Homo sapiens: one gene and its partners. The protein of the gene in region 1 purifies or fractionates together with the protein of each later gene. This does not show direct contact. Each region holds a gene or a part of one and is shown in the gene's direction. Other genes may lie near its edges.

Region 1 (3,654 bases):
GGTCCCAGTTTTCTTTATTTTCTTTTTTGAGATGGAGTCTCACTCTGTGGCCAGGCTGGAGTGCAGTGGCACAATCTCAGCTCACTGCAACTTCCACCTCCCAGGTTCAAGCGATTCTTCTGCCTCTGCCTCCCAAGTAGCTGGGACTACAGGCATGTGCCACCATGCCCGGCTAATTTTTGTATTTTGAGTAGAGATGGGGTTTCACCATGTTGCCCAGGCTGTTCTTGAACTCCTAACCTCAGGTGATGTGCCCATCTCGGCCTCCCAAAGTGCTGGGATTATAGGTGTGAGCCACCGCGCCTGGCCCCAGGTTTTCTTTTATAGTGTCCAGAATGGCCTATTTCATATATAGAGCTGTGGTTAAGCTTGGTCTGAACCAGTCCTTTGCCATGATGTTCCTAGGAGCCAGAGCGCAGGGGCTTGGGTTCTGCATGGAGCAGATCCTTTCACTGAGAAAGTTTGCTCATTCAGGTATGCAAGGAGCTGCACCGCTTTGAGAAGCTGATGGAGTATTTCCGGAATGAGGACAGCAATATTGACTTCATGGTGAGGAACTGGGCCTGGGTCCAGCACATACCCACCAGGGCTGTGTGTGTGTTCCTTGACAACAGGGGTGAGGCCAACAGCGTATCTTGATATTCCACGTAGAGCCCAGAATGATTCTATTCAGCAAATGCTTCTTGTCCACCTGCCTACCCCAGAGAGCTCTTAGAAACTTCAGGATATCATTTGTGTATATCAGATCTACCTCCTTTTCCTCTTTTCTGTGGCCTTTTTGTCCTTGAATTGGATCCTTTTTGAGCTGCCCTCCCTTTCCTAAGCTCTTCCTCTAGCTTCTCTTCCCCTCACTGCAGGGTCTTTGGCTAGGTAAGGTTGTCTCGAGGAATACCTGTTGATGTACAAAGGAAATCAGATAGCTATATCTTCACTTACATCTGTTTTTCATGTAATTTACTTGTCTTTATACACTGAATATTAAATGACATTTTTAAAATTAAAATACTCTTATTGCCCCCATAAAGACTTAACTCTTTAATTGACTCCCTGTAATTATCCACATGATGATGATATTCTAACAGCCGCCTATCCTCCTGGTCTCTTGCCTTTCCTCTGCCCTTCCTGTTGCTGCTTCTCTGGGCCTCCTCTTCTTCAGGTGGCCTGCATGCAGTTCATCAACATCGTGGTGCACTCGGTGGAGGACATGAACTTCCGGGTCCACCTGCAGTATGAGTTTACCAAGCTGGGGCTAGAGGAGTTCCTGCAGGTGAGCTGGCTGGGGTCCTTGTAAGGTGAGGTGCTTTGGGATCAGTTTAGCCGTATCACAAATGATTTTTCTTTTATAAGTGCCTAATCCTTGATGCTCCTGGGACCCTGCCTGTCTTCTGTAGCCTGGGACTCAGGACCTCTGCAGCTAACTCCCCAGTCAGGCAGCTCCATGGGGGCGAGAATCTGACATGGCCTGCAGCAGGAACTCTTTGGGAAGTGGTGGCGAAGGGGGATGAGGACTAAGACTTTCTCAGAAAGTTCCCCTGATGATCTGCCTGCTCCTACAACTACTCCTACTCTCTGCTCTTCCCCCAGAAGTCAAGGCACACAGAGAGCGAGAAGCTGCAGGTGCAGATTCAGGCATATCTGGACAACGTGTTTGATGTCGGGGGTTTGTTGGAGGATGCTGAGACCAAGAATGTAGCCCTGGAGAAGGTGGAGGAGTTGGAGGAGCATGTGTCCCATGTAGGTGGTCTTCCTTTGCCTGCCAGAGCCACTGTTGATGGAAGCTCAAGTAACCAGGAATCCTGAGCTGACCCATTTGCCTCCAGATTGAGTCCCAGGGAGGCTTTAGAACCCACCAGGGCTCTCAAGAGCATACTCAGGCCTGAGCCACTGGATCATCCACCAGTTGGAATACACATCGACCTCCAGGGCTGGGCATGAGGTGGCATTGGTCTTGAGACAGTCAGAATGTGGCCTTTGTCTTGTATCTGTTATTGGAATATAAGGGAACCACCTGACTAAGCTGCCTTTGTGGCCTTGTGTTGAGGGGTCCGACTCAGGTCTTGACTAGGGTTCAGGCTGTGCTGAGTGCCCAGGCTTTAGGGCCAGCACAGAACCTGCCCTTCCTGTTGTGCAGCTCACAGAGAAGCTTCTGGACCTAGAGAATGAAAACATGATGCGGGTGGCAGAACTAGAGAAGCAGCTGCTACAGCGGGAGAAGGAACTAGAGAGCATCAAGGTACAAGTACTCTGGGGAAGGCAGTCCCTGACTGATCCTGGGCTCCAGCGCCTTGGGGTTCTGCTTTTTTTCCCTGAGTCATATCAAGTTCTCTAGGATTTAGATCTTGATTCACCCTTGAGGTACTCAGGTGTGGGTGGGCTGATGATTTCACCCCATTTTTTTAGTTGGAGAGGAAAGGTGGGGCCAGTGTGAGCCAGACACACACATAAGAGGGTGGGAACAGCTGGGGCACCCACAAGCATTCTGGAGTTCCAACCCAGGCCTCCTCCTACCAGCCCATCCCATTGATTTTTCTCCCCTCTACCCCCGTGTTCCTCCCCCAGCCATGTTTAATGAGCAGGGGCAGAGTGACCAAGTGCTCTGTGTATTAGGATGTCCACCAGGTATCCTAAATTGGCAGGGCAGGTACTCTTCATATTTCATTCTCTTCTGTATTTTCTCCTGACTTTTTGTTCATTATAAAGTCATGCCCCCATCCTACTTTCTCTTTCAGAAGAATATATGCTGGCTCTGTTGAGCTCAATATGTATCTGCCCAGCTTCTGCTGAGCATTGTATTGGGAGCTATGGAGGATACAGAGATGGTTAAGACAGGGTCTTGTTTATAGGGGGCTTCCAATTGAGCCATTATACAAGGCCAAGTGAAATTAAAGCAAAATGAGGCCCAAAGGGTTATGGAGAGAGCCGCTATGTCAGACCGGTGGTAGATTAAGGAGAGTTTCACAGGGGCAACCTTTTTTCCTGGGCTTTGAGGGGCCCATGCAGTGAGAATTGGCTGGAGCAGAGAGGACACTTCAGGGTGCCAGCGGAGGGAGGCAGCTTCTGCTTGCCTCTTTTGTTTTGCTGCCTTCCAGCTTCCTCATTCCCCCACCTGGGTTTCTGCCACTCTGAGCCTCTGAGTACCCTGACAGAGACCCTCGTTAAGAGAACCCTGGGTAGGAATTCTCACTCTTGGGGCAATGACTATGCCTTCAGCCCACTTTTCCCTTAATGGTGCTGTCTGCCTGCCAGGAGACATATGAGAACACAAGCCACCAGGTGCACACCCTGCGGAGGCTCATTAAAGAGAAGGAGGAGGCCTTTCAGCGTCGATGTCATTTGGAGCCAAATGTCCGGGGCCTGGAGTCTGTGGACAGTGAGGCCCTGGCCAGAGTAGGCCCTGCAGAGCTGAGTGAGGGCATGCCACCCTCCGACCTGGACCTTCTGGCTCCAGCCCCACCCCCTGAGGAGGTCCTGCCTCTTCCTCCACCACCAGCTCCGCCCTTGCCCCCTCCACCTCCCCCATTACCAGGTAACCACGACGACCCCTGGGAGCCAACAGGGGCAGCCTCTTTGTGGGGACCAAAACTGTAGTCAGCAGTGTCTTCCTCAGGGAGAAGCTGGGAAAATGGCATTATCTGAGGACTTGGAGGGATATAA
Region 2 (3,654 bases), on another chromosome or scaffold:
AAGGGTGCCTTGGAAAGAGCTGATACAATTTTTGAATCCTAAAAAGAAAACGTGGAAAGTCATCTGCTCATTCATCATCGAGCACTTGAAGTGTGAAACATTCAACAGAAAGGGATAATGCTGATGTGAGGAGCGGAAAAGTGTTCTTGGGAAATGGCTTTGGAGATAAGCCCCATCACTCCTTCCTCTGTGATTAGCAACAAGAGACAAAGAGAAGCAATTTCTTCACTTGCCTGATTCAGACTAAGAAAACTCTAATATAGACTTAGGGCTTTCTTGGAAGTACAGAGAACTCATTTTTTTTTTAAAGGGTGTTGTCTTCTGGAGCTTATTGTTGCTGCTAATTTCATTATGACCCTGCAGAATAACCTCCCCTCATGTTTAATGAACGGATTAATTAATTAAACTATAGAACTAATTATTTGCCTTTTAGTTTCCTTTACTATTACGTTGCCCTTCTTCCTCTCCTCAGGTATTCTAAAGCATCTTGTGTTTCAGGAGAGCAGTGTTTTCTAACCATATTTCAGTCCTACCAGCTTCCTACTGATTTCCCACTACCCTCCGCCCACCCCGGCCCCCAAGCCAAAAAGGATAGAAGGAGAGCTCTGTTGTTCCCATGCAGAATATTAGCAGTGAGTCATTGGCCAAAAGAAGCCAGGGGTGAGGGTGCCATAGGTAATCTGACTCATCTTAGCAGTACCGTGAATCTCTCTTTGTTTGTCTTCTTATTTCAATAATAATTTTCCATGGAGTGGGCTAATTTTGGCCTAGGTTTACTTGAAATTGAATGGCAGCCAGTAAGTTTCAGCATTCAAATTTTGTGTAATGCTTAATGATATATGAGTAGAAGTTACTGACAATGTCTCATCCAACAAAAAGTTTAGTTAATAGTTTTAAAAGGGCTGGCCATGCAGGGTGGCTCATGCCTGTAATCCCAGCACTCTGGGAGGCCAAGGCTGGACTGCTTGAGTCCAGGAGTTTGAGACCAGCCTGGGCAACATAGCGAGACTCTATCTCTACAAAAAATTTTAAAAATTAGCCAGGCATGGTAATGCCCACCTGTAGTCCTAAGGGAGACTGAGGCAGGAGGATCCCATGAGCTCAGGAGTTCAAGGTTGCAGTGAGCTATGATCACATCACTGTGCTCCAGCCTGGGCAACAGAGCAAGAGCCTGTCTCTTAAAAAAAAAAAGGAAGGTGGTGGCAAAAACTACTATTTAATGATGGTCAAAAATAAAAAATAAAGATATTAGCAATTATAAATATTAATTGTGTTAAGTATCACTCCTTAACAAAGACCAGACCTAGACTGGAAGAAAATCAGAGAATGGAAGATGTTGACAAAAGAGGAACACTCATTATTTGTGCCTGTTAATGGAGAAGACATATACATTACTTGAATAATTTAAGTCTGAAAGGAAATGTGGAAAGTGAAGAGTGAAGGAAACCCCCCAGTTCATGGATAACTCAGAGAGTTTTTCAACATTCTGACAGCAGTGTAGAGCACTTACGATGAACTCCAGTGTTTTCTTAGGTCTCAAGAACAAATCCATAATTATCCACTTTTTTGGGAAGGATTTTGAAATTAATTTCCTGAGAATCGTCCTAAGGTGGTGTTTTAATATTCTAAGCATTTAAAATTGTTGAAACCTTAGATAAATGAAAATTACACTCTCTTGCAATTTTGCATTGTCCTATGTCAATAATACCAGGCACATTATAAACTTGAGACAGGGAAACAAAGCCAACCTAGGTGTTGTAAGGTCCTTGATGGTAACTCAAATTAAGTTTATACTTTACTGGAATTCTTTGAGATAAGCCAGAGTCCTTTGATATGAAAAAGAAAATCATCTTATAATTTGAAAATTAATGTTTCTAATGCCAAATAACAAAATTACATAGGCTAGATAACTGGTAGAAAAATAAGATGGATGGGTTGGGTGTGGTGGCTCATGTCTGTAATCCCAGCACTTCGGGAGGCTGAGGCGGGCAGATTACTTGAGTACAGGAGTTCAAGACCAGCCTGGGAGACATGGAGGAACTCTGTCTCTACAAAAAAAAAAAAATATATAAATATATATATATATATAAATCAGCCAGGGGTGATGGCACACACCGGTAGTCCCAGGAGGTAGAGGTTGCAATGAGCCGAGATGGCACACTGCACTCCAGCCTGGGCCACAGAGCAAAATCCCATCTCAAAAAAAAAAAAAAAAAAAAAAAAAGCCCTCAAGACAAAAAACCTCCTTCCTTAAAAAAAAAAAAAAAAGAAAAATATGATGGGTTTTAAAACATTAAGAAGATAGGGTTTTCTTATTGAATCACAAACTGAAGATATCACATATAAAGCAGTTAAAAAACTGGAGGAGAGGTACCATTGGCCATTAGTTTTTCAAAGCAGTGCTGACTTCTTAACTAAAGAGTATTATTTTGATGCAATCCCAGAAAACAGAGCTGTGCAGTCAGTGGCTTTGGTGATGGTGTTCATAAGGCACATGGTCAATTACAGCCATGGCAGTGAGGCACTGTAGCCTGTGTGCTGCCATTAAAGGGATCTACTGTTTTCCAGTATTTTATTCTGCAAAGATTTTCCAAAAAGTTTCTTGTCTCCAGAATAACTGCATTACATCTGGCAGAGAGTCATATGTTTTAAAGATCTGTTCATACAAAAGGACCTTCTTTTTGCAATCCTATTAATAGTCGTATTGCACAGCCTGCAATCATTTGCCGCAAAATACTTGGGAAGACTCTGGTACAATAATGATGTAATCTCTTCCACCTTAGTAGATAAAATTTAAAAATGGCACTAGCATGTAAACAAAATGGAATCCATAAATTAGAGAGGATTGGGCACCTGTTACTACAAGAAAATGAACATTTAAGGGATTATTAGAAAATATCTATTCAAAAGAATTTGTCACTGTGGTTTCCATTTTCCTTCCTCTTAATTATGAGTCAGTTTGTCAGCATTCACATCCATAAGAGATGCAGTATTTAACCCTGACTTTTGTTTACTCTTTATTCCAGAAGCCTCCCCAGCTTTCTGAGGATGATATCTGGCTAAAAAGCGAGGGAGACAACTATAGTGCCACCCTCCTGGAGCCTGCTGCCAGCTCTCTTTCCCCAGATCACAAAAACATGGAAATTGAGGTGTCTGTTGCAGAATGTAAAAGTGTTCCTGGAATCACCTCTACCCCACATCCCATGGACCATCCCTCCGCTTTCTATTCACCCCCGCATAATGGCCTCCTTACTGATCACCACGAATCCCTGGATAATGATGTTGCCAGAGAGATCCGCTATCTAGATGAGGTGCTAGAGGCCAACTGCTGTGATTCTGCTGTGGATGGAACGTACAATGGAACATCCTCCCCAGAGCCTGGTGCAGTGGTTCTGGTGGGCGGCCTAAGCCCCCCTGTCCACGAGGCGACCCAGCCAGAACCCACTGAAAGAACAGCTAGCCGGCAGGCACCTCCTCACATCGAGCTCAGTAATAGCAGCCCTGACCCCATGGCAGAGGCAGAAAGAACAAATGGCCATTCCCCCAGCCAGCCTAGAGATGCGCTGGGGGACAGCCTGCAGGTGCCTGTCAGCCCCAGCTCCACAACCAGCTCACGGTGTTCTTCCCGAGATGGAGAGTTCACTCTCACCACAC
Region 3 (2,625 bases), on another chromosome or scaffold:
GTACTCTCAATGTACTGTAATTAATTGTGGCTTTCTCTAGCTCCTGCAGACCTGAAGTGCAAGAGCCTGCTCTACCTTACTGATTTTTAGATTTCTAACTTCTGGGGCTGGTCTTTTGTCATTGATGTAACAAATATCTCCTCCACAGTGGTCCAGACCCAATCTTTGTCCAGGCTGGGGCTTTCAAAGATGATAAAGAGGGGTTGGGTGGGATCACAAAGAAATCTTGCGCAAATATACCTTGAACTAACATATATTGAAAAAAGCAGGACCTAACATTTCAAACTCACTGAAAATGGAGAAATGAGATGGTAAACTTTTTGGGCTTAGAGGTGTAGAAGCAGGAACTCTTAGGTAGGTGGGAAGGCTGCTCTGTCTAGTTGGTCTCTGCACTCAATGCAACCCAGGCTGGGTCTGGAGTCATTTACCCTCCTTGCCCTCTCCCCAGCTTTTCCTACTCTTGCCAAGAGGGAGAAACCAAGGAGCTCTGGTCATCAGGTCACCATCTCAAGGCCTGCCGAGCTGTGGCCTTCTCTGAAGATGGGCAGAGTGAGTACTGGGGAAGACAACCAGCAATGTGGTGGAAGGGAGCAGTGAGCAGCACCATGACCTGGGCACCTTTTCCCCAGAGCTCATTACTGTCTCCAAGGACAAAGCCATCCATGTTCTAGATGTGGAGCAGGGCCAACTGGAAAGACGTGTTTCCAAGGCTCATGGGTAAGGAGAGCAGCCAATTCTGTGTATGTGCATGGAGGTGAAGGGTAAGGACCAGGAGGTCCCCACTGGGACAGAGATGCTCCAAGAAGTTCTACATCTGTGTCTCTAGTGCCCCCATCAATAGTCTTCTGCTGGTGGATGAGAATGTTCTGGCCACTGGGGATGACACAGGTGGTATCTGTCTCTGGGACCAGCGGAAGGAGGGCCCCTTAATGGATATGAGGCAACATGAAGAGTACATCGCAGACATGGCTCTGGATCCAGCCAAAAAGCTGCTGCTGACAGCCAGGTACAACTTCAAAGCTGCCTTGCCTCCCCTCCCCTCCCTGTGTGAAATGTCTTCCTCAAATAGACCTTGCGTCTAAGCCTACTGCTCTACTCTCTACAGCGGGGATGGCTGCCTTGGCATCTTCAACATTAAGAGGCGTCGGTTTGAGCTGCTCTCAGAACCTCAGTCTGGGGACCTGACCTCTGTCACTCTCATGAAAGTACAGCTGGTTATGGTGGGATGGAGGGGTGTGTGCTGGGGGCTTAGTCTGAGGCAGCTTCCACATTGTTTTCTCTATTTCCCTGCAGTGGGGGAAGAAGGTAGCCTGTGGCTCCAGTGAAGGTACCATCTACCTCTTCAATTGGAATGGCTTTGGGGCCACAAGTGACCGCTTTGCCCTGAGAGCTGAATCTATCGACTGCATGGTTCCAGTCACCGAGAGTCTGCTGTGTACTGGCTCCACTGATGGAGTCATCAGGTGAGGGAAGCCTGGACAGCCCTTAGGTCACAGGAAGGGCAGACCCAGCTAGCCAGTACTCAACACTGTTCTTTCCCTGCCCAGGGCTGTGAACATCCTACCGAACCGAGTGGTGGGCAGTGTGGGCCAGCACACTGGGGAGCCTGTGGAGGAGCTGGCCCTCTCCCACTGTGGCCGCTTCCTGGCCAGTAGTGGCCATGACCAGCGCCTCAAGTTTTGGGACATGGCCCAGCTGCGAGCTGTGGTGGTGGATGACTACCGTCGGCGCAAAAAAAAGGGAGGACCACTGCGGGCTCTGAGCAGCAAGACTTGGAGCACCGATGACTTCTTCGCAGGACTGAGGGAAGAGGGAGAAGACTCCATGGCTCAGGAAGAAAAGGAGGAGACTGGGGATGACAGTGACTGAAGGAATGAATTGAATCTTGAGACGGGTCCTCACCAGGCAAGAGTCTTGCTTATTGGGCTGCATCCCCAGAGAGGATATGAATTATTTTTTGAAAAGACAGGGTTTTGCCATCGTCCAGGCTGGAGTGCGCTGGCTTGATCTTGGCTCACTGCAGCCTCAATGTCCCCAGGCTCAGATTGTCCTTCCACCTTAGCCTCTGGAGCAGCTGGGACTACAGGTGTGCACTACCACACCAGGCCAATTTTTGTTTTTTTTTTTTGGTAGAAACGGGTCTGTTTTGCCCAGGCTGGTCTTCAACTCCTGGACTCAAATGATCCACCTGCCTCTGCTTCCCAAAGTGCTGGGATTACAGGCACGAGCCACCACACCTGGCCAAAAAAATTTATATTTTTTGAGACAAGGTCTCACTCTGTCACCCAGGCTGGAGTACAGTGGGTTGATCATGGCTCACTGCATCCTTGACTTCCTGGGCTCAAGTGATCCACCTCAGCCTGCCTGGTAGCTGAGACTTAACAGGCATCTGCCACCATGCTTGACTAATTTTTGTGATTTTTTTTTGGTAGAGACCAGGGGTTTCACTATGTTGACCAAGCTGGTCTTGGAACTCCTGGGCTCAAGTGATCCTCCTGCCTTGGCCTCCCAAAATGCTGGGATTACAGGCATGAGCCACTGTGCCTGGCTGGATATGAAATTTTTTTTTTTTTTTTTTTTGAGACAGGGTTTCGCTCTTGTTGCCAGGGCTGGAGTGCAATGGCG

What was found.
Region 2: the proteins of FMNL3 (region 1) and PALM2AKAP2 purify together in Homo sapiens (affinity purification with mass spectrometry; one large-scale study listed by BioGRID and IntAct). This does not show direct contact.
Region 3: the proteins of FMNL3 (region 1) and WDR55 purify together in Homo sapiens (co-immunoprecipitation; one large-scale study listed by IntAct). This does not show direct contact.

What each region holds. Positions count from the first base shown.
Region 1 is NC_000012.12:49,651,805-49,655,458, reverse strand, and holds part of FMNL3 (formin-like protein 3), read left to right. Parts: intron 1-474; coding exon 475-549; intron 550-1,156; coding exon 1,157-1,267; intron 1,268-1,584; coding exon 1,585-1,734; intron 1,735-2,131; coding exon 2,132-2,233; intron 2,234-3,246; coding exon 3,247-3,526; intron 3,527-3,654. UniProt on the Homo sapiens protein: Plays a role in the regulation of cell morphology and cytoskeletal organization. Required in the control of cell shape and migration. Required for developmental angiogenesis.
Region 2 is NC_000009.12:110,133,101-110,136,754, forward strand, and holds part of PALM2AKAP2 (PALM2-AKAP2 protein isoform 3 (PALM2-AKAP2)), read left to right. Parts: intron 1-3,026; coding exon 3,027-3,654. UniProt on the Homo sapiens protein: Binds to regulatory subunit (RII) of protein kinase A. May be involved in establishing polarity in signaling systems or in integrating PKA-RII isoforms with downstream effectors to capture, amplify and focus diffuse, trans-cellular signals carried by cAMP.
Region 3 is NC_000005.10:140,667,786-140,670,410, forward strand, and holds part of WDR55 (WD repeat-containing protein 55), read left to right. Parts: intron 1-448; coding exon 449-549; intron 550-629; coding exon 630-717; intron 718-826; coding exon 827-1,006; intron 1,007-1,105; coding exon 1,106-1,205; intron 1,206-1,293; coding exon 1,294-1,463; intron 1,464-1,547; coding exon 1,548-1,869; 3' UTR 1,870-2,625. UniProt on the Homo sapiens protein: Nucleolar protein that acts as a modulator of rRNA synthesis. Plays a central role during organogenesis.